6 separate regions of the Homo sapiens genome follow, and all the other regions are linked to region 3. Evidence: fine-mapped expression QTL. A gene starts in region 3. Each other region holds a variant in brackets. All regions are shown on one strand. Distances are between the middles of the regions.

Region 1 (5,072 bases), 33 kb before region 3:
ATGGATGAGAAGACAAACACTGCTAAGATTTAGTTCTTCCCCAACTACTTAGCACAATCCCAGTGAAAAATCTCTACAGGATTTTGCTAACCAGCTATAGATCCCTTCCTTTCACAGGTGTTGAAGGATTTTTCAAGTAACTCAACAAGCTGACTCTAAAATTCAAATGGAGAGTAAAGATACAAGAGTAACCAAACAATTTAAAATAGATGAACAAGGAAGGAAGACAGCCCTCAACAGCAACATAAATTACAAATCCATAATTCTTCATTTGTACTGCAAAAATCCAAAAACCTCTGAAAATAAGATTTTCCTTTTAACTCATCTAGCAGCAAACCTTGACCTGATCTGAGCTTACTTACTGTTTATATGTATCCCACATAGTGTGACTTCATATATTTCATTAAGAAAACAATGTGTGTGATTACTGGATACTACATAATGTCCACTAAGTATTACTGGAAAAAATTCCTGACAACAAAACCACATCTGACCTGCAAGGTTTCTTACAAAGTATTGTAGCCTTGTAAAACTATAATAACGAAAACTGTATAGTACTAGCCCAAGAACAGGGTCTAAATTATATATGGGAATTTAATATATGTTAAAAGTAACGTTTCCAAACAGTGAGTGATATGGTTTGGCTGTGTCCCCACTCAAATCTCACCTTGAATTGCAATCATCTTCATGTATCAAGGGTGGGGCCAGGTGTACTTAACTGAATCATGGGCGCAGTTTCCCCTCTACTGTTCTGGTGGTAGTGAGTGCGTCTCATGGGATCTGATAGTTTTATAAATTGGAGTTCCCCTGCACAAGTTCTCTTGCCTGTCGCCATGTAAGACATAATTTTGCTCCTCATTCGCCTTCTGCCATGATTGTGAGGTCTCCCCAGCCATGTGGAACTGAGAGTCCATTAAACCTCTTTCCTGGCAGGGTGCAGTGGCTTACATCTGTAATTCCAGCAATTTGGGAGACCAAGGCGGGTGGATCACCTGACATCAAGAGTTCGAGACCAGCCTGACCAACACGGCAAAACCCAATCTCACTAAAAGTACAAAAATTAACCAAGCATGGTGGCAGGTGCCTGTAATCCCAGCCACTCAGGAGGCTGAGGCATAAGAAGCTTGAACCCAGGCGGCAGACATTGCAGTGAGCCGAGATCGCGCCACTGCACTCCAGCCTGGGTGACAAGAGCGAGACTCCGTCTCAAAAAAAAAAAAAAAAAAAAACTTTCCTTTTTAAATTACCTAGTCTCGGGTATGTCTGTATTAGCAACATGAGAACAGACTAATACAGTGAGGAAATGAAAAATCACTCAATAAATGAAGTTTAAATACTTGTTGCTCTTTGAGAAACATAACGTATACTCGTCTTCACATAGTACACCAAAATAAATTCCATATACATTAAAGATATAAATTTTTTAAGCCATTAAAAGTACTAGAAGAAAATTTTGAAGAATATCCTTGTGAACTTGAGTTAGGAAAAGGCTTCTTAAATAAAAAACCAGAAGCAAAAACCATAAAGAAAAACAACCAACACACTTAATTATGTCAAAATGACAAAGTATTATACCAAAAAATGCTGTAAATAAAATTAAAAGATAAACCAAAAGCTAGGTGAAAAATACAGTGAACATAAGTATAATGATCTGTAAACAGAGTATGTAAAGAATTCCTACACGGGAAATGCCAATTTTGAAACAGCGATAATTAGAGGGAAGGAAACTTGTGTTATAAAGGGGAAAAATGTTTGTGGAGGCTTTAGCTCAACTTAGAAAGCTTTACACTCAAACTACCATAAAGCACCTGAATTTTTTTTTCAAAAAAGAAAACATGTTCATACTCTACAAGTATAACTAAAACAAATTTTAAAACCACAGGCAGTTGTCCCTTGGTATCTGCTGGGGACTGGCTCCAGTAGAACGTATCCAGATATCCAAGACTGCCCCAGACAACAAAAATCCCAGGATGCTCAAGTCCCTGATTCAAAATGACACAGTAATTGCATAAAACCTATGGATATCCTCCAGCATACTTTAAATCATCTCTAAATTACTTATAATACTTAATAAAATGTAGATGCTATGTAAATCGTTGTTATACTTATTGTGTTTTTTATTTGTATTATTTTTCCATGTTGTATTATTTTTTCCCAAGTATTTTCTTTTTTTTTTTTTTT[C/TC]CACTTTTTTTTTCAAGGTGACTTTAAGATTCTTTCCCAAATATTTTTGGTCCACAGGTGGTTTGAGCTGTGGATGCAGAACCCACTAAACTATAGCTATCAACTTTATAGACTTCTTTCAAAGACAATATAGATCTAAACTAGATCTCTCTGATTTCCTAGCATCATTTCAAAGCATTGGCTTAGGTCAAGTAACAACAGGCTTCAGCATATTAAACAATATTTTCCCAAAATCCATTGTTATGTAAATTGATTCTTATAAGTGTTTCTTCATTGAAAACAGTACCAAGTAAATCATATTGTCAAAAATGAGATTCTAAAGACAGTATCTATTCTGGTCAAACAGGTTAAAAGTCCTCAAAAATGTGAACACACAGGTGGTTTGAAATAACAGGCAGGTGGTTTCAAACCTGTGGGGGGAGCGGGGTGGAGAGGCGGGAGATGTTTTGTGTTTTTGTTTGTTGAGACAAGGTCTCCTCTGTCACCCAGGCTGGAGTGCAGTGGTACAATCACAGCTCACCGTGGCCTCAACCTCCCAGGCTCAAGCACTTCTCCCACCTCAGCCACCCGAGTAGCTGAGACTACAGGCGAGCATCAGCACACCCAGCTAATTTTTGTATTTTTGGTAGAGGTGGGGTTTCACCATGTTGCCCAGTCTGGTCTCGAACTCCTGGGCCCAACGGATTCGCCTGCCTCAGCCTCCCAAAGTACTGGGATTACAGGCGTGAGCCACCGTGCCCAGCTGATGGTACTTTCTTACAGCAGCCCTATCAAATTTACGTATCTCATCTCCTACATAAGAGAGAAACAAAGAAATCAAACAGGAACTATCTCAACTTTCTCTCTCCACATGTTCATTGACAGCAACAACCATCCTTAACTTCCTCTATTCTGATGGAAGTGGGCTACAGCTAATCCTTCCACAGGGTACTTTAGTCCCCATTCCCTCTGGCTTCTCCAGAGAAACCTTAGTTAATGAACACTTTTCCTCTCTAATGCCTTTTTAACTTCTGTCTATAATACATCTTGTTTCTTAAGCACTCCCAATTTTTTGACACTCTCCTCTCTTGGTTTCTTTATATCATATGCTCTTTTCTTCTAACCCTCCTCCTTCTTTGTTCGTTCCTCCCTTAAATGTTTCTGATCTTCATCCCTATGTTATTCTCACACTACAATATCATCCTTAAGAAATCCTTTCTCCCTGCCTCCACCAGCTTAAAATAACATATGTACAACAAAGACTCCAAATTCACTACTTCTCCAGTACTTTTTTACTTCTCCTTTGAGAATCAAAACTATGTATCCCACTTCTGGACATCTTCACTTATACTCCTCACATGCACCTCAAATACACCATGCCCCCAAACTGAACTCCGTATCAAGGTCTCCCCATTCCAAAACCAAACCTGCTGCTGCAGGGGAAAAAAAAAAAATCAAAAAAAGAACATGGTAGTGGACAACATCTATTCACATGAATAACATCAGCTGCTCAAGCCAGAGCCTGAGAGTCCTCCCAAAATCTTCATACTCCATATACACACATATTATCAAAACAATACAATTCCTGTTGCTTTGATTTCTAGGTACCTCTTAAATTGATCCTCTTCCTCCATTCCCACAATTATTACCTTGGTTTATGCCATCCTATCCTACCTGAATTAAAACAACTTTCTAACCTGACTGCCTGCCTCTAGCCTCAGAGTCCTGTATTAGTCCATTCTCAAGCTCTATGTAGAACTACCCATAAGACTGGGTAATTTATAAAAGAAAGAGGTTTAATTGACTCACAGTTCTGCAGGGCTGGGGAGGCCTCAAGAAGCTTACAATCATGGCAGAAGGGGAAGCAAACACATCCTTCTTCACATGGCGGCAGGAAGAAGTGCCAAGCAAAGGGGGAAGAGCCCCTTACAAAACCATCAGATCTAGGCTGGGCGCGGTGGCTAACGCCTGTAATCCCAACACTTTGGGAGGCCAAGGTCAGTGGATCACTTGAGGTCAGGAGTTCAAGACCAGCCTGGCCAACATGGTGAAACCCTATCTCTACTAAAAATACAAATATTACCCAGACGTGCTCACTTGAACCCAGGAGGCAAAGGTTTCAGTGACCCAAGATTATGCCACTGCACTCAAGCCTGGGTGACAGAGCAAGACTCTGTCTCAAAAAAGAAAAAATAAAATCGATCTCGTGAGCACTCACTATCAGAACAGCATGGGGTAACCGACCCCACGATTCAGCTACCACCAGGTCCCTCCACAACATGTAGGGATTATGGGAACTACAATTCAAGATGAGATTGCTGGGGACACAGCCAAACGGTAACAGTCCCCAGTCAGTGTTTTTCAAACTTAGAATTATGACCCAATAGTAGGTTGTGAAATCAGCTTGATAAGCTGCAACCAAGCTTGTTTTCTTGTTTGTTTTAAATGAAATAAAATCACTACATACCCTGAGCCAGAATCACCCAACACACTCTTCATGAAATCTGAGATGTTTGTTTTTCAAATCCAGTAAGTTCTGAAGTAATTGTAATGCAACAAGAGATAACAGTATTGTTTTCTGCAATGTTTCAGGTGTGCATATGCATGCACATGTGCATACTGGATCACAATATAAAATGTACTTCTTGGCCAGGCACAATAGCCTGTGCCTGTAATCCCAGCACTTTGGGAGACCAAGGAAGTAGGATTGCTTGAGTCCAGGAATTCAAGACCAGCCTGGACAACATAGCAAGATCCTATCTATAGGAGAATAGAGATAGGATCTCTAAAATAAACAGATAAATAGAACAGAAAATAAAATGTATAGCTTATTTTCACAGTGTATCACACTAAAGTAAACATAAGTAATGTTGAGAACTGTGAAGGAACTAGGATTTTATTTAACCCTACTT
Region 2 (5,072 bases), 180 kb before region 3:
AAATCTTAGCAAAAGGAGATTCTCTTATCATATTCACCTGCCAACATAGAAAACCTCTAGGGGTTTCTTTGGGGCATGTAAGCAACTGTATTATTTAACCCACACCTTTCACAAGTTCATAATGTGTAACCAAACAAACCAAGCTTTCAGAGATTTGGGGAGTCTTTCTTCAAAGAAAGACTGAGAGACACAAATAAATTCAAAGAAACCAAGACTCTGAAAAACTACTTGAATATAAGGTGTGAAGGAAATATGATGAGATGTTTCACTTATTTTTAATTTAAATTCAAGTTCATCTCATTGAATTTTTATTTTCGCCAGGTCTACTTTTATGGGTTGAAAGATGCTGACTTGCACTCATATCCTACCCTGTATTCTACCCAAGACTGGGTTTCCCGGAAAGCAGACCCTGAGACAGACATTATTATGCAAGAAGTTTATTAGACGGTGCTCTTTGGGATCGGAGTCAGTAGATAGGAGGAGAAAAATGAGGATTGTACAGAGGGAGCGATTCAGCTGCCACGAAGTCCCAAAGGATTCTGACAACCCCACGAGGAGCTCTGAAGCTGTTGTCCCAAGTAGGGGGAAGGAATTCAAACCATGGCACCTCATAAGGATCAATCACTGGATGTCCATGGGAGGGGGCTTGCCCTCGGGCAAGGTGGTGTCTTTAGCTAAGACAATCTCTAGGGAAAGTGGAGGGCTTTCTGTTGATAACACTTCCAGCGATCTGGGGAAATAAGTCCTTCAACAATCAGGAGAGACCTAGGTTGCATCGATCATCGCAGCATCCACCATACCCAACAGCTACACTCTTTCTAGTTAAATTATAATTAACATGAAATTGTAGTTGCCATGAATTTCTGTTGTATTTGAACCATACACATATTTTATGATTTTGTAAAACCTAGAAACCAGTGTATATCACCAACTTGGTTGTTCCATAGATGGTGAGTGTTTCTGATTATTTTTTTCTTCACCATGTCATGGTGAAAGGTGGGTGTTTTTAATCAGAAGTTCATGGATAAACTTTAAGGTGTATATTATATCTCAGTTCACACAAATGAACTATGCACACTTTTACCTGGAGAAAGCCCATAGCTTTCATCAGACTGTCAAAAGCATAAGAGAAGTTACAAATTATTAATCGGTGGCATTCTTTTCAAGAATCCAGAATGTTGTTTAAAATGACCCGTCACAGCCGGCACGATGGCTCACGCCTATAATCTCAGCACTTTGGGAGGCCGAGGCGGGCAGATCATCTGAGGTTAGGAGTTCAAGACCAGCCTGACCAACATGGCAAAACCCCATCTCTACTAAAAATACAAAAAAATTAGCCGGGTGTGGTGGTGGGCACCTGTAATCCCAGCTACTCGGGAGGCTGAGGCAGGAGAATTGCTTGAACCTGGGAGGCGATGGTTGCAGTGAGCTAAGATTGCGCCATTGCACTCCAGCCTAGGCGACAAAAGCAAGACTCCTCCTCCAAAAAAAAAAAAAAAAAAAAAGACCAGTCACTTCATTTAAAGTTGTTTGCTTAGCTGCTTTATAGAAGTGCCAAATTTGGCCAGTGCAGTGGCTCACACCTGTAATCCCAGCACTTCATAAGGCTGACGCGGGTAGATCACTTGATCCCAGGAGTTTGAGACTAGCCTAAGCAACATGGCGAAACCCATCTCTACTACAAAAACTATTAACAGTCAGCCAGGCATGGTGCTGTACAACTGTAGTCTTAGTTCCTTGCAGCACTGAGGTAGGAGGATCACCTGAGCCCAGGAAGTTGAGGCTGCAGTGAGCCACGATCGCACCACTACACGGCAGCCTGGGTGACAGAATGAGACCCTGTCTCAAAAAAAATAAAAATACCAAATTTGCTGTGTATAAGGCAGAGTTCAGCCTGAATGGGATGCAATGAAACAAATCCAAATGTCAGTTTCTTACCTATATGCACTGTATATAAGAAGCCCAAAGGCTGACGGGGCGCGGTGACTCACGCCTGCAATCCCAGCACTTGGGGAGGCCAAGGTGGGTGGATCACAAGGTCAGGAGATCGAGAGCATCC[T/C]GGCCAACATGCTGAAACCCCGTCTGCAGTAAAAATAAAAAATTAGCAGGGTGTGGTGGCGCGCGCCTGTAGTCCCGAGTACTAAGGAGGCTGAGGCAGGGGAACTGCTGGAACCCAGGAGGCGGAGGTTGCAGTGAGCTGAGATCACGCCACTGCACTCCAGCCTGGGCAACAGAGCGAGACTCCATCTCGGAAAAAAAAAAAAAAAGAAAAGAAAAAAGAAGCCCAAAGATCTTATAGAATTTTGCAAATTTTTCTCTGTAAAATTACATGATTTTTCTAATCTGAAAAACTCCTTTAGGAAAAAAAAATCATTAGGAGAAAAAATTGAGGAAGTCTGACAATTACAGGAAGATAAAACAGATAAAGAACAAAATAGATGTCTGATTCTTGAAGCTATTTTCTGGTTAGGATATACATACTGGTGTAGCAGGAAAAAGGAAGAGCATAAAAGGCTGCTTCATCAGAGTCTGATTTAATAACTTCTTCACGTGGTTAGTTACTTCAATTTCTCAACTAGAGTTGACAGATACCTGGGCATCTAACCAAACAGCCATTCCCACAGATGAGAATGCAATGTAAGAGAATTTATGTCAAGTTATAAGCAGTTTTTAAGCAGAAGAAAATATTGACTCTGCTTTAAAACTGCGACCAGGCACTTTTCCCTAAATCTTTTGTCTTTTTCTAGATATGTGTCTGTGTATTTACTACTCTGACAAGTTCCTGCTACAGGATCTCCTGAGAAACAACTAAGAACAATCTTTGTCAGAAGAGGGATCTGACCCTTCCTTATTGACTTGATAATTATCAATTTTCAAGTTTAAAATGTGTGCTCGGTCAAAACACTCAACTAGAACTTGCAAGACTCTGAGAACATTAATGTGGCGTATTAACAACAGATGAGAAACGACACAGATAAGCACAGATCCTCAAATTATTCACTAAGTTACTTAAAAGCCCAAAGAAATAATGTTTAATGAGTCAAAATTATTTCCATGATGTAAAAATATTACAATATAAGCCTTTGCATATGTCCATTTATATTACACCTTAGCACTTGAAAATTAAGCATTTATCCAAAGGCTATATTCTCTCAGGTCCACTTCTATTGTCTCCATAATAATGCTGATAGAACAAGTTTCTACATTCATCCAGCTGAAAAACACAAAGCTATTTAAAAACAAATCTATCTTTACCCAGGAATGCAAGGTTAGTTTCAAAATACAAAAATCAATCAATATAATGTACCACATTAACAGAATACAGGAGAAAAACCAAATGATCATCTCAATAGATACAGAAAAAGAATTTTATAAAATCCAACATCTTTTTATGATAAAAACATGCAACAAGCTAGGAATGGAAGGGAATTCTCAACCTGATAAACAGCATCTATGAAAAACCCACAGTCAACATCATACTTCAAGGTGAAGACTGAAAGCCTTCTGTATTTGTCCATTTTCATGCTGCTGATAAAGACATATCTGAGACTGGGAAGAAAAAGAGGTTTAATGGACTTACAGTTGCACATGAATAGGGAGGCCTCACAATCATGTTGGAAGGCAAGCCACCATGTGACTTGCTTGGAAGGCACAAGGCAAAGACAGAGAGAGCTTGTGCAGGGGAGCTTCTCTTTATAAAACCATCAGATCTCGTGAGACTTATTCACTATTGCAAGAACAGCACGAGAAAGACCCATCCCATGATGCAATTGCCTCCCACTGGGTCCCTCGCACAATACATGGGAACTGTGGTTATTACAATTCAAGATGAGATATGGGTGGGGACACAGCCAAACCACATCATTTCGACCCAGCCCCTCCCAAATCTCATGTCTTCACATTTCAAAACCAATATCCCCCAAAGCCTTAACTCATTTCAGCATTAGCTCAAAAGTTCACAGTCGAAGGTCTCATCCAGTATAGGCAAATCCATAGAGACAAAAAGGAGGTTACTGGTTGTCAGAGGATGAGGGGTTGTAATTGCCAGCAGGTGTGAGTTTCTTTCTGAAGTGATGAAAATTGGACAGTGATGATGGTTGCACAACATTGTAAATATTCTGAAAACCACTGAATCATATAGTTTAAAATGGTAAATTTTATGATCTGTGAATTCTAGCTCGATTGGAAAAAAAATTCCATCCAAATTAACCCCTCAGTGCTAGGTCAAAGCAATATCCATCAACGAATTGTGAAAACACTCTAAGTTCTGAGATGTATCTTGCTTTATCCCCCTCAAATAACACAAAACAGTTTAGCCATGTTTATTTCTTCTTAATGTTCTTAAAAATTCTCGCCAGGCGCGGTGGCTCATACCTGTAATCCCAGCACTTTGGGAGGCCGAGGTAATCCCAGCACTTTGGGAGGCCGAGGCGGGTGGATCATGAGGTCAGGAGATCAAGACCATCTTGGCTAACACGGTGAAACCCCGTCTCTACTAAAAATACAAAAAAATTCGCCGGGCATGGTGGCAGGCGCCTGTAGTCCCAGCTACTCGGGAGGCTGAGGCAGGAGAATGGCGTGAACCCGGGAGGCGGAACTTGCAGTGAGCCAAGATCGCGCCACTGCACTCCAGCCGGGGCAACAGAGCGAGACTCCATCTCAAAAAAAAAAAAAAATTCTCCTGCATTCTGTGTATCATCTATACACACCTCTATCTTCTAAAAGGCAGTCTTGTAGCAAGCACACTGGTTCTTGTTAGATCACTAATACACAAGAGTTTCCATCTAGACAGTCGTGCTTCTCACCCAAGGTGAATTGCCAAAATCAGTAAGTAGCATTAATTCACCTTCTGTTAGTCCTCTTCCTTTCCACATACCTTATTCTTCTGTACTTTCTTCCTATGAATTACATTTATACTCTGTGGTAATTCCTGAATTAGGTAAAACAACTCTTAAGTTGTTCAGAATTCTTTCTGGTTTGGAGTAGCTTGTTTGAAAGCAACAGATAACAGTAGAAACCCTAAAAATAACAGATTAAAACACTGAGCAGAACATGGAAATAGAAACATTCCA
Region 3 (5,072 bases):
AGCTGTTGCTATGAAAACCTTCACTTTTTTTTTTTTTTTTTTTTTTTTTTTTTGAGACGGAGTTTTGCCGTGACTCAGGCTGGAGTGCAGTGGTGCAATCTCGGCTCACTGCAAGCTCCACCTCCCAGGTTCAAGCAATTCTCCTGCCTCAGCTTCCTGAGTAGCTGGGGTTACAGGTGTGCACCACCACACCCAGCCAATTTTTATTTTTATTTTTTGAGATGGAATCTCGCTCTGTAGCCCAGACTGGAGTGCAGTGGCATGATCTCGGCTCACTGCAGCCTCTGCCTCCCAGGCTCAAGCAATTCTTCTGCCTCAGCCTCCTGAGTAGCTGGGATTACAGGCATGTGCCACCACGCCCAGCTAATTCTTATATTTTTAGTAGAGACAGGGTTTCACCATGTTGGCCAGGCTAGTCTCGAACTCCTGACCTCATGATCCGCCTGCCTCGGCCTCCCAAAGTGCTGGGATTACAGGCATGAGCCACGGCGCCCGGCCAAGAACCTTCACTTTTAAGTTTGCAGTATTAATGTTGAATTAACAGACTGGCATACTTATCTATGACACAGGTAATGAAGGAAAAAAAACACCTCAGTAGACTCAACAAGGATATCACAAGTAATGACTAGCAAGCAACATTTTTTGAAAAATAAAATGTAGGCATAATTTCAGGCACAAGAAATGCTAAACGAAATAGCTTACTTTTACCTTAAGACTTTCCCCAAATTATGTGATTTCATTCCTACAAGGACAAGAATCACAGCTTACTACCAGCCATGCAAATGTCATTTTAGGAGTACACACAAGTTTTACCCAGTATCTTAGTTCACATTTGTCCCAATTAATTAAGTCTATGTATAATTTAAAAGCGAAAACTAGATATGTCAATTTTGTTTTCCTTCTAACTAATCCAAAGTCAAAACTGTTCACTTTACCAAATGAATTAACTGAATACAGTTAATTAAATCTTTTATTTATAATTAAAAATTGGAACACACACTTTCTCACTTAATACCTATTATGTCCTGTTTCCCATACCTCTCTATAAAGTAGAAGTATTTGCTGGAAGACAATAATCTGCTCATTAAGTAGGCACTTAGAAAAAGCAACGATCTGCAACTACTGAAATTCTTATCTGTATATTTCTCTTTTGGGTTACAAGAAAGCACTTCTCTGGCTATTTTCCCAAATAAACTAGGCAAGCCTTGGGAAAGTCACTGCTTAAATCCCACTTTCTGACAGCTTCTCTTCCTCCATAAATGAATTATTGAGAGCCATGTCTACTTCCATCCATTACATAATACATGTCCATCATGGGACCTGTTTTCTGAACAAGAAATAGCTTAAATGACACTAACTGATAAGTAGGGCCAGAGAATACTGTAATCTAACAGGGAGCAAGAATCCAGAAAAGAAGATTCTGATTTACAGTGCTAAGTTGTGAAAGAGTGATGTGAAGAACATTGAACACTGCTTACTCTAATATTTCCATACAAAGTGACACACCTGCCCCCAAAATGTTTTTAAAGCACTTGACTCCAAGAACATTTCTCAGAAATTGAGGAGCCTACCAAAAAAAAAGAGTTCCATTTCATTTTAAAGTGTTTTAATAAAGACTGCAAGAAACATAACTGCAAATGAGAAATAAAATTTCAACAATTTAGCACTGAACACAAAATGTCTAAAAGTCAAGGTGTACTGAGCAAGCAACACGCTATAAAAGACGGTTGTACTTTAAAACATTTAAGCATTTTTCATATAATTAGCTCCAACAGAACTATTCCAATTGTTCACTTTATCCACCCAAAGCAGTCAACCACAACCACCTGCAACTATTATTCAGCAATGTGCCTTCCAAAGCAACCACCTGAGTTTGGGGCCTTCTCTCAAGGGGCCAGGATAAAGCCTGTAAAAGGGTGGTATAAAGAGATCTTTTAGGCATTGGGGGGAAAAAAAACTGGAAGACACCACCTTGAAGGAGCTAAGCGTAATGCGACCCAAATGGTGGCTGCCGGAACGAAGTTGTCTAAACCGAAGATCTCCCTCTTCTTCGGTGTAAAACTTTCAGATACATCCACGCTCACAATTTACCTGAGCCAAAGTAAGGGGATTCTCTTCCCTCTCCGACCCCCCACCCACCCCGCCAGAAGAAAAAGAATCGAACCCTAAAGTAGAAACGTGAGATCTAGTGCAATAAAATAGGTTCTGCAACTGCCTCAAAGGCAACATGCACAGCTCATCGTCCTTTTGAAATACACTTCATCTTTTATCTCACCATTTCATCGAAAAGAAAAGAATCATCTTCAGCATTTTACATCACTCACCTAACCCAAAGATCCACCCTGACCGCACCCCAACCTCATGGCTCCCCAATTTCTCCGTCTCCCCACTACCTCGTCCGCGGCTTCACTAGTCCTAAGCCTCCCCCCCTCCGCTCCCCAAGTGCCCAGAGCCCCAGTCCCCACTCCCCCACCTCCCGCCCCAGGATCCCCACATCTACCGCCTCGGCTCCCGCCCGATCCCGGAGCCCGGCTGGGTGGAGCCCGCGGGTGGGCGCCGGTGGTCTGGGTGGGGCCCGCCCCTCCCCACCCCCCGGGCTGCCGAGGAGGGGGAGGGGGTCGCGAAGCCTCACCTACAGCTCCGCCCCTCCCCGGGGGCGCGTTGCCCTGCCCAGCCCAGCCCGGGCCGTGAGCAAGAAGCTGGGTAGGAAAGGCGAAAGCCTCAGCACTAGCGACAGGGGGGAAGCTCTGGGTCCCGCGCGACTTCCGCGCTGTCGCCGCCGCCGCGGCCGTCTCACCGTCCTCAGGGCTGCCGCTACTGCTGCTGCTGCCGCCCAGGCACCGCCGCCGCCGCCACTACCGCCGCCGCCGCCGCCACAGCACGGCCCAGGCGCCCGCGACGTCACCGCGCCCCGCCCCCTGCGCGAGACACCTAGCCCCGCCCCCAGCCCCGCCGCGGGGCGCAGCGCGCCTCCCCGGGCTCCCGGCTCGGCTGCCTCCCTTTCCCTCAGCCTCCCGGGAGCGTGACGCGGCGGCCCGGGGGCCTCCGGGCGCCTTCCGGGGCACGCGGGTGAGGAACTGGGAAGCGGGGGAAATCGGCGCCACGGCGGTCGATTAGCACCGAAACAGAGTGATGGGCGCGGAGCGTCCCTGCACACACACACACACTCACACACACACACACACGACCCCTGCGGCCACGGGAGGGGAGAGCCGGGGTCGGCTCCGCGAGCGCAGGGTGGCGCTTGTCTCCTCCTGCTTGCCGTAGGAAGTGGACGCTGGAAGCCCGAGGAGCCGCTTCGTGTCTTCCCAAACCTAAGCGGCGCCCCACCCCCTACTTCTCGTGGCCCGTTACGCCCGGGGCAGCCAAGCGCCGCGGGAGCAGCGCCGGGATCGACCCTGGCTGCTGGGGGGACGCTTTGTCCCAAGAAAGCTGGTTTTTTGCCCCTTAGCTTCGTGGAACGCGGCCGCGAAATTAGTGGTCTTCTGACCTGAGACTCGCGGGGCTGCGCACACGGGCATCGCCGAGGACCCCAGCAATGGACGTCGTGTCTGTGGTGATCCCGCCAGGACGCGGGGAGCGTGGGCGGAAATTAGTGTCCACGTTCCGACCCTGCGCTGTGCCAAACGCTGCTTCGGGAGCTGTTTATTTAGCCTCCGACAGCTAAGCGAATCGGCGGGCGGCTGGGGCCTGGTGCAACCCGATTTTCTCGTGCAGACTCGCAGCCGGCTTTGGTTTTGTTTTTTGTTTTTTGTTTTTTTTTTGGAGCCATGCAGAGGGTAGCTACAGCCATTAATTTAAGGATGTAGATAAGCTATCTCTAAACCAAGAAAGTAAGAATGGTGTGAATTATATTTATTCCCAGCCTTCCAGTGTTTATTAAAATAATTTTCGGTGTCCTTGAGAGGAGTTAAAAGCCATCATTTTACTCCTGCTTACCTCCGCCACCGTAATTAACCACTTTATACTGCCTCATAATCCCATTAACAAATTGCAGTCGCTCCTCAGCCTTCACATTCATTCACTCACCAGTTTCTACTGTTTCATCCTGCCCGGACTCTTAACTGTTCCCTCCCAGGATCGACATGCACTTGGATCATTGCAGTTTCTGGGCCTGCTGTCATCTCCCCCTTCAGTACTTCCCACATATGACTACCAACTGTTAGACGATGTGCTGCTGCCAGACCAGCCTTTCATTTCTTGGACATCCGGCTATTTACCCAGGAAAAGTCATCCTTTGACTATTTTTCATGACCTTTCTCATCTGACTCGTGATCTGCCCATCTTGTTACTCCCTAGCAGTGTGGTAAGGTAAGAGAAAATTCAACTAGGAGTCAATAGATATTTCTGTTCTCATTCTCCCACTGTCTACTTGTGTGGCCTCAGGCAATTCATTCTACTTGTGGTCTTACTTAACTGTAAAGTGAGGTTTGAAGTAGGTGTCTGAGATACATCATGTCCTTAAAATATGTGGATCTGGAGAATTAAGTTGCTAAGCGCTATGTTATACACGGAAATACTGTCCTAACACAGATTCAGATTTTTGTTTTTTATTTTTTGCCACCACACTGGCAAAAAATATTATTTCCTGCCCTGCTCCAGTTATCTTTTTTAAAACCTACGTTTAGGATTTTTGATTAAAGCTAGCTAACCGAGCACATGTATTTACTGTCTCTTCTTCCTGAGACCCCATAAAATGATGATAAATAAAAGTGATACAAAATAGAAAATGAGAAGGGGGACATCGGAAGATAATTTTTTTTTATTTGACATGCAAAAAGTAAGTGTGGTCTGACAAAATAAAATGGAGAAAAGCATAATGTAGAATGGGTGTAGAGGGTGCTGTAGAAAGGAAGGGGACCTGTCAGCCCAGAAGTGCTTTAGGGAGACGGAGATTTGGAGATAACTACCAGACAGAGCAAGAGTGAGAAGCAGAGTTGAGACCAGGGAGACTAAATAAAGGTCTATATAAGGAAGAGCAGAACCCTCCCTATATCTCAGATACAATATCTAGGCATTTATCCAGGCTAAAATTAAGCACTCTGATAATCTGGGGAGATTTGGGTTAACTG
Region 4 (5,072 bases), 840 kb after region 3:
TGTCGGGGTTGTGGAACTGCTGAACCACTTCGGGGTTGCACATGCAGTAGCGCTGGCTGTGGGGGGGTCAGATGCAGAGCGGACGCTGAGCCCCCGCCCACCCTCCCCCGGGCCCAACAAAGGAAGGGGGTGTCCAGGGGGTATCCCAGCTCTCCGAAGGCTTTAGGTCCAGGGAGACCAGTGTCTGTCCCATACTCTGGTCTTTTTCCCCACACCCCCAAATGCCCCACATTTCCAGCCTGGGGAGCTCGAGGGGTCGGTCCCTTTTCTTCCCTTCCCTTGTTTCTCCCCAGCCATCCTCCTGCCCACACCAGAAGGGGTGTTTCTGGCCCAATGTCCAACCCTCCTGATAGCATCTCCTGTCTCCCAGGCTCACAGCGGCCCGGCTTCCCCACGCTGGGGTCTGTTGGGGAGTGGAGCTGGGAAGCGGCCTTACCTGAAGGCCTCAATGAGCCGCTCCACCTTCTGAGCCTCCCCCTGCACACGGATGTGTGCCTGGAACTTGCGCAGGGCCTCGTCCAGCTCCATGCTGGAGAAGTCCATCTCGTCCACCACGCAGCTGAGGGCAGGCAGGGAGGGTGTGAGGTCAGGTGGCACCCTAAGCACCCTCCAACACCCATTCTCGCTGGCCTCTGTTCCCAGCCAGGACAGGTGCAGGGCCCCTCAGGCTACTCACCCCCGGGGGTCGCCCTTTAATGCCCCAAGAGGACCATCTCCTCCCACCTGCCACAGTAGCCCTTTCGGAACCCAAACCCTGAGGCCAGGAGAGGCTTTGGTGGCCCAGGACACAGGGGTGGAGGGAGGCTGAACTCGGATCTTCCAACTCCAAATCCCAGTTCCTTCCTTCTTAACCTCAGAGTACCCCAAGCAAAGCTTTCAGCATAAATAATACAGTAAACATATTGATTCTTCTGTTCTTTCAGAGACCCGCTAGGAGCCTGTGTTTCTCCCAGGTTTAAATTTCACTTTCTCATTTAGGTCTTGAGGGGGCTGAGTCCTCCGTTGGATCCCTTCTGCTGTAGGCTGAACAGTTAGGAGCAGAGCCCCTCAAGCCCCTGGGGCTTTCTGCAGCCCAGCTCCCCCCAGCTGCCCCAGCTCCCCACAGCTGCCCCAGCTCCCCCCAGCTGCCCCAGCCCTCAGGGGAGGCTGTGATGGGAGGCACAGCCTAAGAGTAAATGACAAATGTGCCTAACGTGAGGGGACAGCGTGACACGCAGGGTCAGATTCTGGTCTGGGCCCTCCTGCGAACTTGGTGTGACTCTGGCTTGCCCACTCACTCCTGGGGCCTCTGTGTGACCTTCTGAAAAGGGAGGAGGCTGGAGTCCCTGCTCCCCAAGGGCCTTGCTACCTCTGAAATGCTGCCTCCAACCCTGGGGGGTTTGCCTGTGAACATCCCGAGCTTCAGTGTGTGTGGGTGGGGGTGTGGGGTCACATGCCAGTTCCCCCCAGCTAAGCAGGCGCCTTCCTCTGGTCTAGCCCGATCCAGGGGACTCTGCACTGCAGGGTCTGAGGCCGAACCCTCCCAGTCCCCTCACCCTGCCTCACCCTCCTTTGGGGTGCCCTGTCCCCAGGGCCATGTGCAGCAAGGCAGGAGTCCAGGCCTGGAAAAGCAGGGGACCCAATGTCCCCTGGGCATTGCTTTCCCTTTGGGAGACGCAGACCAAGCGCGTTAGATTGGGCTCTTGGAGCTGACGTTTGCCCACTCTACACCCACTCACCCTAGTCTCCTCCCACTGGCTATGGCACAGCCCCTGCACTGCCCCTGACACTGCCCACTGCCGGCAAGCAGTCCCACTCTGCTCCCATGGTCCCCTGGCCTGCCTGCCCACCACATCGAGAGCACAGAAAACGCCTGCTGAGTGGCCCTGTGATGGTGACATGAGCTCTGAGGTGGACCCACTTCCTCCATGACCTCAGCTTCCATTCGTGCCCACTGCCTAGAAGACTTGGAGACCCCCAACTCTGCCGTCAGTTTTTAGGAGAAAACAAGGGGAGACGCCACAGTGGAGGTGGTCAGGGCCTGGTGGTCCATGGACTCCGCCTCCCACAGGTTTCTGGGGAGAACAAGGAGAAAAGTGCATCACCGAAGACTCTTAGAAAGGGAGGGGGCGCCGAGAGGGAGCTGGGAGTCTCTCCTCCTCTTTCCTTTTCGCCTCTCTCCCGTAGGCAGGGCCCATGGCCATCTTCAGGCTATGAGTTGTCCTTGGCTTGGTCAAAGCCCACTCCTCTCAGGCTTGCTGGCCGGGACAGTGGGCAGGTGAGGGTGGGGCTGGGGTGGAGGCCAGCATCTTGCCCAAGCATGAGAATCGGCAGCACCAGGATCAGGGCATTTGAGGTTGAGCTGACGGCTGGGGAACAGGGGCCTCCAGAGCCAGCCAGGCGAGAGGCTGCTCTGATTTCCCGGTGGCCCTCCTCACCTCCACCCTGCACCCTTTGCAGCCCTACGTGAGTGCCAAAGGCCCTATGCGGCCACATCCGTGTGTTCCTGTAGCCCAGCCCATCAGGAGTCAGCAACTGGGCACAACAGAGCCACACAGTGACACTGTCCAGGGCTGGTGACCAAGAGGCTGTGGTCCGATGAGTACAGAGAGAGCCTGGAGGAGGTGAACCAGCATGGTCACGCAGCAAGGGGGTCAGAGCGTGTGGGCCAGAGAGATGGGGCGGGGCAGCGAAGGACAAGGAAAGTCTAATTCGACAGAGAGCAAGGAGAGAAAGGGAGGGACAGGCAAGGAGGAAAAGGCAGGAGAGAGATCGCAAAAAGGGAGCAAGACCGGAGACTGAGATAAAGAACAAGCAAAAAACAGAGACAGGGAGGAAGGCGGAAAGACAGAGAGGCACGAGGAGAGGAAGGGACAGGAGGGGAAGAGGAAGAGACAGAAGAAGTCTGGTAGAGATGAAGATGTGAAGTGCACCGCGGACTGTGGTGGGGGCGGCATGGAGCGGCCAGATGCCA[C/A]CCTCTCAGCCCAGGGGCGCTGACTCTTATGAGGCCAAGAAAGAGGCCTGGGTCCTCAGGGCCCCAGAACGGCCCTTGGTCCCTCTGAGTGCCATCCTGCTGCTCCCCAGGACTTGCCCCCATCTGTCGTGCACCCCACCCCTTCCCTGTTTCTGAACGCTGAGGTCCTGGCACCCGGCTTCCCACATCCACGTTCCTCCCAGAGCCTCTCTCTGAGTGCCTTCTGCCCCAGGGCTATGGACCAGGTCTCACCCTGCAATGGTGGGGGTGCTGGGAGGCCCAGGGCACTGTGGGGGCAGGCTGCCGCAGAGGCAGCGGGAGCAGCTGGTGAGGGTGGCATCTGCCCAGCCAAGCACGATGGCCTAGTTTCCAGCCCTTCACTCAGGTGACAAGCAGCCGTTCACTCACTCAAGTCTGCTGCTAAAAGCCCCGGTAGTGAGCTGAGAGCCTGAGAGCCAAGGACCGGGATGGGGGAAGCAGCCAGGTTGAAAAGTCGGCCCACAGAATGGGAGTTGAATACACCCCTCGTGGGCCTCGAAGCGGGGAGGGCTGCAGGGGTGGACACTTGGGCTGTGGAGCTGGAAGGGCCTCTCATCCAACATCTTCCAGTGTGTGCTCTCAGGACCCCACAGCGGAGTCATAAGGTGGTTTGTTAAAATGCAGCTCGCTGGACCCCACCCCAGACCCAGCAAATTAGAATATTTGGGGGCAAGTCCTGGGAATCAGCATTCTCTGCAAGATCTCCCGGTTGTTCCTAAATTGTGAAACCAAAGACTGAGCTGAGTGCAAGGGTAGGCCTCACTGCGGCTTTTAAAGTGAGTCCAGCAACTCACAGGCCACCAGGCAGCCGTCCTTAGGGGCATGTGTCCCCACCTGGCTATCGGGGCTGCTTTTGCATGGGGGTGGTGAGGGAGGGGTGGATGGAGGCATAAACAGATGTAGTTCTTCCCCTGGCTATGCACCTGCCGTCCTGCCTTCCTCCCCTCACTGCATTTGCCACCACAGGGTATCTGTGTTTCATGAACAGGTGCTATTCTGGGTTTCTCAGACCCTGGGGGAAAAAATGACATTTTCTGGCTGTGAAATCCCTAGCTGGAAGGGAGGAAGCTGTGCTGAGTGGTGGGACACTCTACCCTCCTGCCTGAGGAAGGCACTTCCTCACTGGAGAGCTGGGGGTTGGACCAGGTGACCTCTCAGGACTGGCACCCGGAGGCACGGGCCATCTCTGAAGCACTGCAGACGCTCCCAACGGCAGGGGGCAGACGACCCGCAGCAGCACTCCTGGCTGGCTGGTGGCTTCATCCCCACCCTCCTCTAGGGGGAATCACTGATCACTGTTTGCGTTCCTGATGGGGCCTGTGTCATCCTGGGGAAGGTGGCTGGGGGTGGGACTGTGCTGTCTACCATAAGCCCTGCTCATTCCAGGGTCCGTGTCCCCCTGGAAGCACCTATAAGCCTCGGCCCTCTACAGCATGAGCCTCCTCTGTTCACTCCCTGAGCATAAGCTTCTGCTTGCACCGTGCCCTCTTTTGCTCCCTCCCCTTCTCTCACTCTCTGTCCTGCTGCTTCTCTTATTTTGCAGTGTCTACCAGCACTCCTAATTCCCACTTTCCAGCCTTCTTTGCTGCCCTGGAATCCTCTTGGGGAGCTGAGTGTGGGCAGTTTACCAAATCCATGCTGCAGCCTCCACCCAGGGTGGCCTGGAGTCATCTCTCCTCATTGGTCATCTTTAAGGTAAAGAGCACCACACATTCCCGGGTGGTCTTTTCTGGTGTATCATCTCCCCATTTTACAGAAGACAAAACTAATGCCACGTAGGGCTGGCCCCATGCTCCCACAGCTAGGGAGAGCAGGCTTTCAGCTTCCTAATCTTGTGAGGCCTCTCCCTGCCCCACTGGGCTCTCTTCTCTTCACTCCTGTGTGTGTGTGGGGTGGCAGGGAGGTCCCTTACTCAAGTCGGGGGAGTTCCCTCTGAGCTCTCTGTACTGAGTATGGCTCTAAGTGCTTCACTATGTGTGCAATGACCTCATCTTCTCAAGCTTGTGCAATATGAACCATTGTACCATTATGTTTTTATTACATATGAGACTGAAGTACACTAGACAGCCAGCCCTACAGG
Region 5 (5,072 bases), 110 kb before region 3:
AAGTCTGTTCAAAAGTCAAAGTCTCGGCTGGGAGCGGTGGTTCATGCCTGTAATCCCAGCACTTTGGGAGGCCGAGGCGGGTGGATCACGAGGTCAGGAGTTCAAGACCAGCCTGGCCAACATGGTAAAATCTTATCTCTACTAAAAATACAAAAAAATTAGCTGGGCCTGGTGGTGCGCACCTGCAATCCCAGCTACTGGGGAGGCTGAGGCAGGAGAATGGCTTGAACCCAGGAGGTGGAGGTTGCAGTGAGCCGAGATGGTGCCACTGCAGTCCAGCCTGGGTGACAGAGCAAGACTCTGTCAAAAAAAAAAAAAAAAAAAAAAAAAAAAAAAATCAAAGTCTCAAGCAGGCTCATCCTTATTACCCCATTTTCACTTATGATTTGACTCTAATATACATCCCCAATCTCCCTAACCAAGATCTACTTTTTTCTTGGTATTTATAACTGTTTGTTTATTGTTTGTCTCTCCTATCCCAGGAATTTTTCTTTTTTATTCTCTGATGTATATCAGCACCCAGAACAATACACAGTACAATGATAGTACTCAAATATTTGTCAAATGAATGAAAATACTTTTTAAGTAACTGTATAATTCATATGTAAAAAGTGTTATAAAGAAAATATCCACAATACTGTAAGAGAGTAATTAGGAGATCCTGACGTAGTCTTGGGATCTTGTAAAGTTTCCTAAGGAACACCTGAGAGCTGAAGGATGAACAGGAGTTAGAGTGGGCAAAGTGCAACCATAAAAAGGGAGGGGAAAGATGATCTCACAGGTATGTTTTCGGCCAACTAAAATCCAGAGAATGACACATGGGAGTTGAGAATCTGAAACTGCCCACACACCACTGCAGAGTCTCTGTGAACTCCAAGGTGTTCAAATGCCTGCCCTGAAGACAGCTGGTCCACACCTGCTATCTCTCCTTCTTCCTCTCCCTCTCCCATTCACTCTTTTTATTTTAATTAATTTTAAAATATTTCAGACATACAAGATTCCCTTTACCTCATAAAAGCAGCCTAATCTGGCTTGTTTCTCTACCCCTCCATTGAAACAACTCATCAAGACCACCAACGAATTCTAAGTTACCAACTCTAACAAACACATTTCTGTCCTCATCTCCCTGGAACTCTCAGAAGCATTCAAAGCAACGGCCCAATCCCTCCTAGACACTTGTTTTCTCTTGACTATTAGGACATCACACTCTCCTGTTTTTAGTTCTCACTCTCCAGTTGCACTTTCTCTGTTTCCTTCACAGGTTCTTCCTTCTAAATCAGACCTCCAGGTCTAAATTAGACCAGTGACCAGGTGATCAGTTCTAACCTTTTTCTCTTTTCCATCTAAACTCTTTAATCTACTACATGGTTTAAAATACAACGGAAATGCTGATGAATTTCTAGGCCTGCCCTCTGCTCTGATTTCAGGACTCATACATCCAACTGCCCATTTGGCATCTCTATTTAGATGTCTAACAGGCAACTCACACTTATTTTATCAAAAAAAATTCTTGATTTCCTCTTCTTCAATCTCACCCATCATCTGGTGACTCTGATGAGAGATGAGTCTTCTCTGTCTCATTAAATGGCACTGCCATTCCAGTGGCTCAAGCCAAACACCAAAGCTCTCCTTTTTCTCCTCCTGATATTCATTTCCCACAACCAAGTCAACAGCAGGTCCTAACTGTTCTAGTGCGGAAGTATTTCTTGAGTCTAACCATTTCACCCCATTTCCAGTCTAGTTTGCAACAGCCTCTAGTTAGCTTTCTTCCACCTCCTTTGTCTATTTTCAAGAGAGCACCAGGGTGATCTTGATAAAATATCCACAAATCATGGCATTAATCTGCTTTAAATCTTTCAATAAATTTACCATTATACTTCTCACTTTGACCATAAGGTGAGATGGGCCTTCCTGTCATAAACTATCATAAAATTAAACAAAATGCATGAAATAACTGTTTTCAGACCCTGGATAACAAGCAATACAGGACTATGATCCTTGAGAGAAAATAAACAAGGTGATGGCCCAGATATGTCTAGTATGGGGCGTAGGGAGGGAAAGCCCAAACAAAGAACAGCAGTCTTGCAAAGCTCCAAAGACAGTTTAATGAGTAAGGTTCCCATTAATCTGCAAAACTTTGCGGAGCAAAATACCAGAGGTCCGGGCACCATGGCTCACGCCTGTAATCCCAGCACTTTGGGAGGCCAAGGCGGGCAGATCACTTGAGGCCAGGAGTTCAAGACCAGCCTGGCAAACATGGCAAAACCCCGTCTCTTCCAAAAATACAAAAAGTAGCTGAGCATGGT[G/A]GGGGGCACCTGCAATCCCAGCTACTCGGGAGGCTGAGGAAGGAGAATCGCTTGAACCTGGGGGGCAGAGGTTACAGTCAGCCGAGATCGCGACATTGCACTCCAGCTTGGGCAACAGAGTGAGACTCTGTCTCAAAAAAAAAAAAAAAAATTAAAAATTAAAAACAAAACACAGAGAAGGGAGCTTACCAGAAAAGCAGCACTGTCTAACCTGACAAGGGTCCCCTTGAGTCTTTGGCCAAATACTAAGCTGTGCATGTATAGGGCAAGCTGCCACAAAATAAGATCAAGAGCTACTGGAGAAAGAGCAACTATCAGAGAGCCATGAGTTGAGTAACTACCTGAACCCCATAGGGCTGGGAAAAATTCAAGTTCCAAATAGTGGGGAGAACAGCAGAGGCATTTAGTAGAGACACTAAAAGGTCAAGCTTAGGAGTAGAGCTGATGTAGCCTAGAGAAAAGGCTATTCTAAACCAGGCCTAACAGAGTTTAAAAGCAAGTCTTGAAAGGATCAAGTTAATCCCCAAGTAAATTAACTCTTGCCAGACAAAACAACCCTTCATTAAGGAAGGTACCAAAATCCAGATACTCAATCACCTTGTGTCCAAAATGTCCATCATACCACAAATTCTATACACACGAAGTAGGAAAATATGACCTACAACCAGGAGAGAAGTCATTCCACTGAAATAAACATGGATATTACAAAGATGATGGAATTGTCATTCCAGCTAATAAGCCAAGAAATGCTCCAACTGCACGAGAAAAAAAAGGAGGAATTAAGGGCAAATCGGTAATTAAGAGATTTAAAGCATATTTTTGAAAAACAGACAAAACAAAGACATAATTCTTAGGGATGATACCTAGGAATGATATTAATTTAACATATAATACAAGATAACAATACTATGATAGTAAGGATCAGATGTGATAAGTATAATAAGCAAAGGCATGATAACTATAAAACCCAGAACACTGGTTACTTTTAGAGGGAAGGGAGAGTTCTGGCTGGGTTGGTTCACGTACAGGACTTCTGGGTGGCTGTGAAAGTTCTATTTCTAGACCTAGGTAGTGGTTATGAGGGTGCTTACTTTATAATTTACTTAACTATACACCTGTTTTATTCTATTTCTTACATGCATTCCATATTGTATCAAAAAAGAGTTTTTAAAATCTCTTAAAATTATTTGTTTTCTTCCATCCCAACACCTAACACATTAATTAGTTTAGGCCATAATAATCTCTCACCTGCCTTAAAACGACAAACTCGTCAGCCTCCTCCCAGCCTAGTTTGTCCATGTTGAATCTGTTCTGCACACTACAAGGTGATTGACTGGGCACACGGTAGATATTTAACAGTATTTGTTCAATAAATGAGTGTCGAACTTTAAATTGTCTGAGTAAAAATAAAATGAACTCTGCTAACTGTAAACAATCTTCATTTATTAACAAAATTTTATAACCTATACTTTACAACATTTTTATTTGGTATTTCTGTATCTACTTGAAAATATTAAAACTGCATTTTTTAAAAAATAACACACAATTTAGATTTTCAACTTATTTCATCTGATTTCTCCTCTTGAGCATCACCTAATTCCTAAAGAAAACCGAAAAATCCATTTGAATAAAAAGTCCTGACTGGGTGCAGTGGCTCATGCCTGTAATCCAAACACTTTGGGAAACCAAGGCAGGCAGATCACTTGAGCTCAGTAGTTCGAGACCAGCCTGGGCAACACGGTGAATCCCCATCTCTATGAAAAACACATAAAACTAGCTGGGTGTGGTGGTGCTCATGTGTAGTCCCAGCCACTTGCGGGGGCTGAGGCAGGAGGACTGCTTGAGCCTGGGAGGTGGAGGCCGCAATGAGCCAAGATCACGCCACTGCACTCTAGGTGACAAAGTCAGACCCTATCTCAAAAAAAAAAAAAAAAAATCCTTCCCTGCGTACAATAAAGAATTGGGGTGTATTTTAAACCATCCATAGGCATAAAGCTTTTCTACAAAGACGTTTTAAAACCCATTGCTCAAAACAAACTCCCATTCAGAAGCCTGCACCTTACAGTTCACTATGAACACATCTTCCAGTCAGTGAGCTCATAAGCTCCCCTTTCCCACCAAGCACATCAAGCCTATGCCTCCCGCATTGTCAATAGAGAGAGAAGACTGGAAATAGAAGTACTATTCAAAGAAGTGTAAGAAGTAGAATATGCTATTTGGTCACTTTATTTCACTCCTTTTTGGCTGAAAATTTTCATTTGAAAAAATTAGAGGTAGAAGTATCTGAATCTTGTTATATAGTCTATTTGTCTTTTTTTGTCTTAGTCCATTTAATGTTGCTATAATATACTTTCAAATGTGGTAGACCATAAAAAATATGTTCATTTTCTCTCCTTAAATAACTAAAGAATAATGACTAATTTATATTTAGAAAATAAACAAGTTAGAAACAATTTTTTTTTTTTTTTTGGTGCAGTGGCACAATCTCGGCTCACTGCAACCTCCACCTCCCGAGTTCAAGCGATTCTCCTGCCTCAGCCTCCCAAATAGCTAGGACCGCAGGCATGCACCACCATGCCTGGCTAATATTTGTATTTTTAGTAGAGACGGCATTTCAGCATGTTGGCCAGGCTGATCTTGAACTCCTGACCTCAAGTGATCTGCCCACCTAAGCCTCCCAAAGTGCTGGGATTACAGGTATGAGCCACCACGCCTGAGAAACAAAATTTAATAATTCTCCTTTTCCCTAGTTGTTTCTTTGTAAAA
Region 6 (5,072 bases), 510 kb before region 3:
AAGTTTCTCAGACATTCGATGCACTTTTTTTGCCCACATCTGACTCTCCCTCTTCAGAGCAGCGCGGCTCAAGTTCTTGACTCGCACGAACAAGGCTGAGCCGACCAAGTGCTGTGGAGACCGAGACTGAGGGGCCGGGAAGGTGCCAAGGCGGCCAAGACAGAACTGAGCGTTAACTTGGGAAGGGAAAGATGAATGTCGCACGCTGGGAGCAGCAGGAGGAGTTGGGAAGAAGAGTGCTTCACGGCTGAACCCAGCCGAAGGCACGGATGTCCCAGGTCACCCTGTAAGCCATTGCCTATGGCAGGGGATGGCTTCTTCCCCAGACGACACGGCAAAGGAATGGTCCCTGTGGACAGGGAGGGCTGGAGTGGCACTACCAAGCTGCAAACCTCATTCCTGTCCCATTGAGGGCCTGGAGGAGAGAACATTCATAGGGCTTCATCGCCTCATTCCCAGGAAATCAACTGCCCAGAGCCAAACGGAGCCTGAAATCCTGACGTGACTCACATCCACCGTAATGGTGACCAAGCCACGCATGTTATTTTCTCTTTCCTCTGAAACCCCCAGCCACAGTGTGGCCCTGATGCCTCAACCCCTCTGAGGCTGTCAGGGAGTCTGGGGCCAGAGAAAGGTTTGGCAGCGATGGACCCATTCTGAACCCAGGTCCAGTTAAGTTGCTGTATAACTCAGGGCAACTTAATCTTTCATTTCTAGTTTCTCTGCCAGAAAAGCAGGTGAAGGGAGGCAAAATACAGACCTCATGTTGAGTAACTGAAGATTGAGTGATGCCCTTTCTAAAGGGCCCACCTGCCTGGATGCGGTAAAAACAATGTCCCATGTCAGCTGGTGCTTTGGCTAACACCTATATCCCAGCACTTAGGGAGGCTGAGGAGGGAAGATTGCCTGAGCTCAGGATTCAAGACCAGTCTGGGCAACATAGTGAGACCTCATCTCTACAAGAGTTTAAAAAATTAGTTGGGCATGGTGGCACACACCTGTTATCCCAGCTCCTCAGGAGGCTGAGGCAGGAGGATCACTTGAGCCCAGGAGGTCGAGGCTGCAGTGAGCTATGATTGCAGTGCTACACTCCAGCCTGGGTGACAGAGCCAGATGTGTCTCTCAATGTATCAATAAGAACATCCTCCTTCCCTTAGGAAAGCAGAGTCCCCTCATGTAGCTTCTCTGCACGTGGCCTGGGGAGCCTCCCTCAGGTCACACGCTGGCAGCTCCAGAATGCATGTGCCCAGGGGTGTTTCCTTTGCTTTTTTATATCAGCCCCTGGGGAGGCTTTTCTTCGTCGGTAGCTGGGGAGGGGTCGGGACCACTGGGGCTGTGAGATCGTGTCTCCCAAGCTGGCCTCCTTCCTAGGGCACTGGGGATCCCCTTTCATGCTGCACCTGCGGCCACGGCCGCGCCTCGTCGCTCTGAAGCCAGGCAGTACGCATGTCCTCTGTCCACACTGGCCACTTGCTGTCCCAAGTGCCCTCCTCGTACTTTCCTACCTCCCTGGTCTTGCTCATCTGTCTTTTTGGCTTCCCTTCACCCCCTTTTCCGGCAAAATCCACCTGTTGAAGTTGTGTGACGAGCACTGCCTGCTCTCGTGCCCCACTGCACTTCACTGGGCTTAGCTGTCCCCAGCAGACTGTCCTCCCCGGGAGGTGGCCACAGCAGTGGGCTGAAGAACACACACTCTGGAGACAGAGTCGGGTGTGAATTCCAGTCTCACCACTAACATGCTGTGTGGCGCTGGGAAGGTCGTGCGTCCACTTTGTGCCTCTCCTGTAAAGTGGGATAACAGTACCCACCTTGTAGGACTGCTGTGAAGGTGAACCGACACCAAACCTGTGCAGTGCTCAGAACTGAAGCTGGCAGGTGGTCCACATGTCACTAGCTTTTATTATTTGTAGCCTGGAGTCTAGAACACAGGGAAGTACAAATTCTGAACGGAGCGCTACGGTGGCCCTTTGTGAATGCAGAGTGCTTGGATCTTCGGAGGAAGAGGCCTGTATGGGCAAGTACAGTTGAAGGATGTGAATATTTAACTGATTCAGGAAACATTCAAACACAAGAATAAGGAGAATGGACTTACAAACCCCATGCACGCAGTTCCCCAGCTTCATAATTACCGACCTCTGGCCCATCTTTTGTCTCCACGCCCT[T/C]GCTCCTCCCCGACAGACATGCTTGATTATTTTTAAGTGAATCGCAGATGTTAAGAAAGCAATTTATGCTCTGTAAAGAAAATTTCAAAAAGGAAAAAGATTATCCTACGGCACCTTCATTATGACCTAGGCTGGGGACAGGGATGAAGGAGGCATTCTTTCAGAGGTGAAGAAGAGGCTGGGAGGTCAAGCGGCAGCCCAGGGCTGCAGTCTGCGAGTCTGGGCCCTTTCCAGGACACCTGGGAAGGCTCACAAACCTCACACCAGCTTCCCCCCAGCCCCAGAGCCTATTTATTTTTTTTGAGACAGGGTTTCTCTCTGCACCTCTAGGCTGGAGTGCAGTGGTGTGATCACTGCAGCTCACTGCAGCCTCCATCTCCTGGGCTCAAGTCATCCTCTTGCCTCAGCCTCCAAAGCAGCTGGGACTATAGGCACATGCCACCATGCCCTGCTAAATTTTTAATTTATTGTAACGAGAGAGGTCTCACTATGTTGTCCAGGCTGGTCTCGAACTCCTCGCCTCAAGTGATCTTCCCACCTTGGCCTCCCAAAGTGTTGGGATTAAAGGTTTCAGCTACAGCACCCAGTCCCTAAGTAGCTCCTAATCATTTTTGAGCCAGCCTGAGATATTCCACCTCAAAAATAAAGTACTAGTTATCTTCTCTCAGTTCCGAAAAAAAATTAATGGATGGAATTCTTAAAAGTTTTCACATATTTTCTTTAAATCTATTGTCGGTGTCCACTTGCCTGCAACTGGGCACTGGTAGAATGCAGGGTGAATAAATAGTAAAAAAGATGAATGGGAAACCTTGGAAACAGCTGACCAGTGTAATCTGACAGCTTTCTGTGGACACATTTGCTTGTGGTTGTGATTTTATATTGTGCAGAATAATACATGCTCGGCTAGTAAAATTGTTCCTGCTTCATATGATGAAAGTACAAGCAACCTCAGCCCTGCAGCCGTGTCCACAGCGCCCTGTCTCCCGGGCACGTCTCCCCTGGCAGAGCTTCCCAACAGCTGCTGTGGCTGCAGAGAGCGAGGCCAGGGTGGGACCTGGGCACTGGGAGGGCCGACCGGGAAGAACGAGTTTGGACTCTCTTGCTACAATTCCCAAGAGCCAACACCCAGCGTGTGGCAGAATTTACACGGGAGAGGGAAGGAATGCAGCAAGCTGGCTTGATTCCTCTCTCGGGCAGACACAGAAGTGTGGCTAAGCAGAAAAGTAATTCTCATAAAAGAAATCCTCCAGAATAATTTCTTATTGAGCATAAAGCCCAAGACAAATCCCAAAGCTGGAAATGACAGCCGCGTCCAAGCACAGGGTTTCTCGGCTCCTTTTACTCTTGGCACACACACTTTCTGTTGACCCAGCCTGCACGCCCCAGAGTCAGTGCATCAGAACGCGCCCTGCTGAAGCTTGAGTCCCAGTCCTGGGCAAAGCCCTCCCTTGGTGGCCGCCCTTCTGGCTCTTCTACCTTGGTACAACAGCAGCACCATCCCTCAGCGCTGGGCACCTACTCTAAGCTCTGGAACAGTGAGACCTGATACGGATAACCTGGCCCGGGGCTGAGGGTAGAAAGAAGGAAAAAGGGAACCGGGAATTGACTTTAAAAGCTGCAAACCCGGAGATCAGGCGGGAAGGGAAAGGAGGCTCATGCCCGTCAGGGCTGTGATGACTCCCACACCCACCGTAAATCCTGGGACCCCTGGCCCTCGGGCTGCCTGCCATTGGAGTTGGCCTCTTGGGCACTGCAGACCTTGTCCATCTTTTCTAGCATTTGGGGACACACCTTGCCTGGATGATCAGCTGGGTGACACTCAAAGAAGGACACAGCACGGTTTTTAAATAACTTTATAATTTCCTGGTGGATTTAGTTTGTGAATAAAAAAGAAAAAATGAACAAAGTGTTTACAATAATTATCAAGGCAAAGTTGAATATAACACAATTTCTTTGTAATGTCATTATCCTGTCAGTAACACAACTCCAGCAGGAACACACACATACAGCTGAAGGCAGCGGGTGCACGTGCATCCCAGACACCACCATGGAGGCTGCTACTGTTACCAAAAGGAACTCAAGCTACAAGGGGGCAGGTGCTCCTCAGCTCCTCCACTAAAGTGCAACACTTCTCTTCTGACGCATCAGGGAGCAGTCACAGGCCCCACTGGATATCCTGCAATGCCCGGCAGGTGCCTGGGCTAGTCCTGCGATGGGCCAGCAGGCCAGAGTGGGTGGTGCTGCCCTCAGGATGTGTAGCTGCAGTAGATGGATGCAATACTGGCGTGGTGTGGAATGAGGGGCTGGACCCAGAGGGCCTGCTTTGGCCGGGGTGAATTCTCTGGCTTCAGTAGGGTTCACTTCCTTTCCTGACAGTGGCTTCTCTGGGGTCAAGAGAGAGCCTGGGCCTAGGAGATCTAGGGTCTAAAAAAGCTCAAAGGGAAATAATTGAGGGCCTGAAGCCAGAAGGAACTGACATGGAGGACAGTCTGTTCCACCTGGATTGCAGGCTCCAGGCTGGCCAGTGCTCACCCGTGCTGGGTGGTCACTGGAAGAGATAGCACCAAGTGGGCAGGAGAGGTCCTGTGGCCTGCCAGGCAGGGGCTTCAGGGTCAAGCCCAGGTTACCATGCAGTATTAGGCACACTGAGCTAGAACCCACGTCGGGTGAGGGTGGTTATGGGGTCACAAACTGTGAAACCTCTACCCAGAGGTCCTGAACATGTATAGGAAAATCCTGGCACAACTGCGAGGCTCTGAGCCCCAGATTCTCGTTCCTTTTGCTCGGCAGGTGTCTCTTGCCCAGGCAGGCACTACCCTAAGTGTGCTCCATGCTTCCTAAGCCGCCAGCCCAGGGCCACCTATGCCAGCCTGGGAGGAGGGGAGTGTGGCTGCCCCATAGCTTGAATTC

Alleles and levels. Alleles are on the strand shown, and positions count from the first base shown. SD is a standard deviation of normalised expression in the study named. Not every link is listed here.
For the expression in CD4 T cells of the gene that starts at base 2,897 in region 3, A is the low allele of the variant in region 4 and C is the other (large effect, 1.0 SD a copy in Kasela 2017).

What was found. PIP is the estimated chance that this variant, and not a neighbour inherited with it, causes the effect.
Region 1: its variant is fine-mapped to the expression of ERC1 in whole blood (INTERVAL, PIP above 0.99).
Region 2: its variant is fine-mapped to the expression of ERC1 in lung (TOPMed, PIP above 0.99). The same link has a PIP of 0.9 or more in fibroblasts and whole blood.
Region 4: its variant is fine-mapped to the expression of ERC1 in CD4 T cells (Kasela 2017, PIP 0.93).
Region 5: its variant is fine-mapped to the expression of ERC1 in lung (TOPMed, PIP 0.97).
Region 6: its variant is fine-mapped to the expression of ERC1 in whole blood (INTERVAL, PIP above 0.99).

The regions. Positions count from the first base shown.
Region 1 is chr12:1,021,952-1,027,023 of GRCh38, reverse strand. The region is part of intron 1 of ERC1 (ELKS/RAB6-interacting/CAST family member 1); the gene reads right to left. Among named protein-coding and RNA genes, the nearest start is that of ERC1, 33 kb to the right of the region's middle. The variant C/TC (reference allele first, on the strand shown) is at 2,182.
Region 2 is chr12:1,164,913-1,169,984 of GRCh38, reverse strand. The region is part of intron 8 of ERC1 (ELKS/RAB6-interacting/CAST family member 1); the gene reads right to left. Among named protein-coding and RNA genes, the nearest start is that of ERC1, 180 kb to the right of the region's middle. The variant T/C (reference allele first, on the strand shown) is at 2,060.
Region 3 is chr12:989,048-994,119 of GRCh38, reverse strand. ERC1 (ELKS/RAB6-interacting/CAST family member 1) reads right to left here and starts at 2,897. Exons shown (of 19, transcript NM_178040.4): 1 at 2,798-2,897. It also overlaps a transcript of RAD52 not described here. RefSeq lists silencers at 2,083-2,377, 2,583-3,092, 3,113-3,222, 3,633-3,682 and enhancers at 2,381-2,942, 3,504-4,066.
Region 4 is chr12:152,512-157,583 of GRCh38, reverse strand. IQSEC3 (IQ motif and Sec7 domain ArfGEF 3) reads right to left here. Exons shown (of 14, transcript NM_001170738.2): 6 at 437-559; 7 at 1-56. Among named protein-coding and RNA genes, the nearest start is that of IQSEC3-AS3, 5.9 kb to the right of the region's middle. RefSeq lists an enhancer at 3,634-4,548. The variant C/A (reference allele first, on the strand shown) is at 2,954.
Region 5 is chr12:1,095,101-1,100,172 of GRCh38, reverse strand. The region is part of intron 3 of ERC1 (ELKS/RAB6-interacting/CAST family member 1); the gene reads right to left. Among named protein-coding and RNA genes, the nearest start is that of ERC1, 110 kb to the right of the region's middle. The variant G/A (reference allele first, on the strand shown) is at 2,307.
Region 6 is chr12:1,494,860-1,499,931 of GRCh38, reverse strand. It overlaps ERC1 (ELKS/RAB6-interacting/CAST family member 1), which reads right to left. Exons shown (of 19, transcript NM_178040.4): 19 at 4,001-5,072. Among named protein-coding and RNA genes, the nearest start is that of LINC00942, 3.1 kb to the left of the region's middle. RefSeq lists an enhancer at 1-144. The variant T/C (reference allele first, on the strand shown) is at 2,163.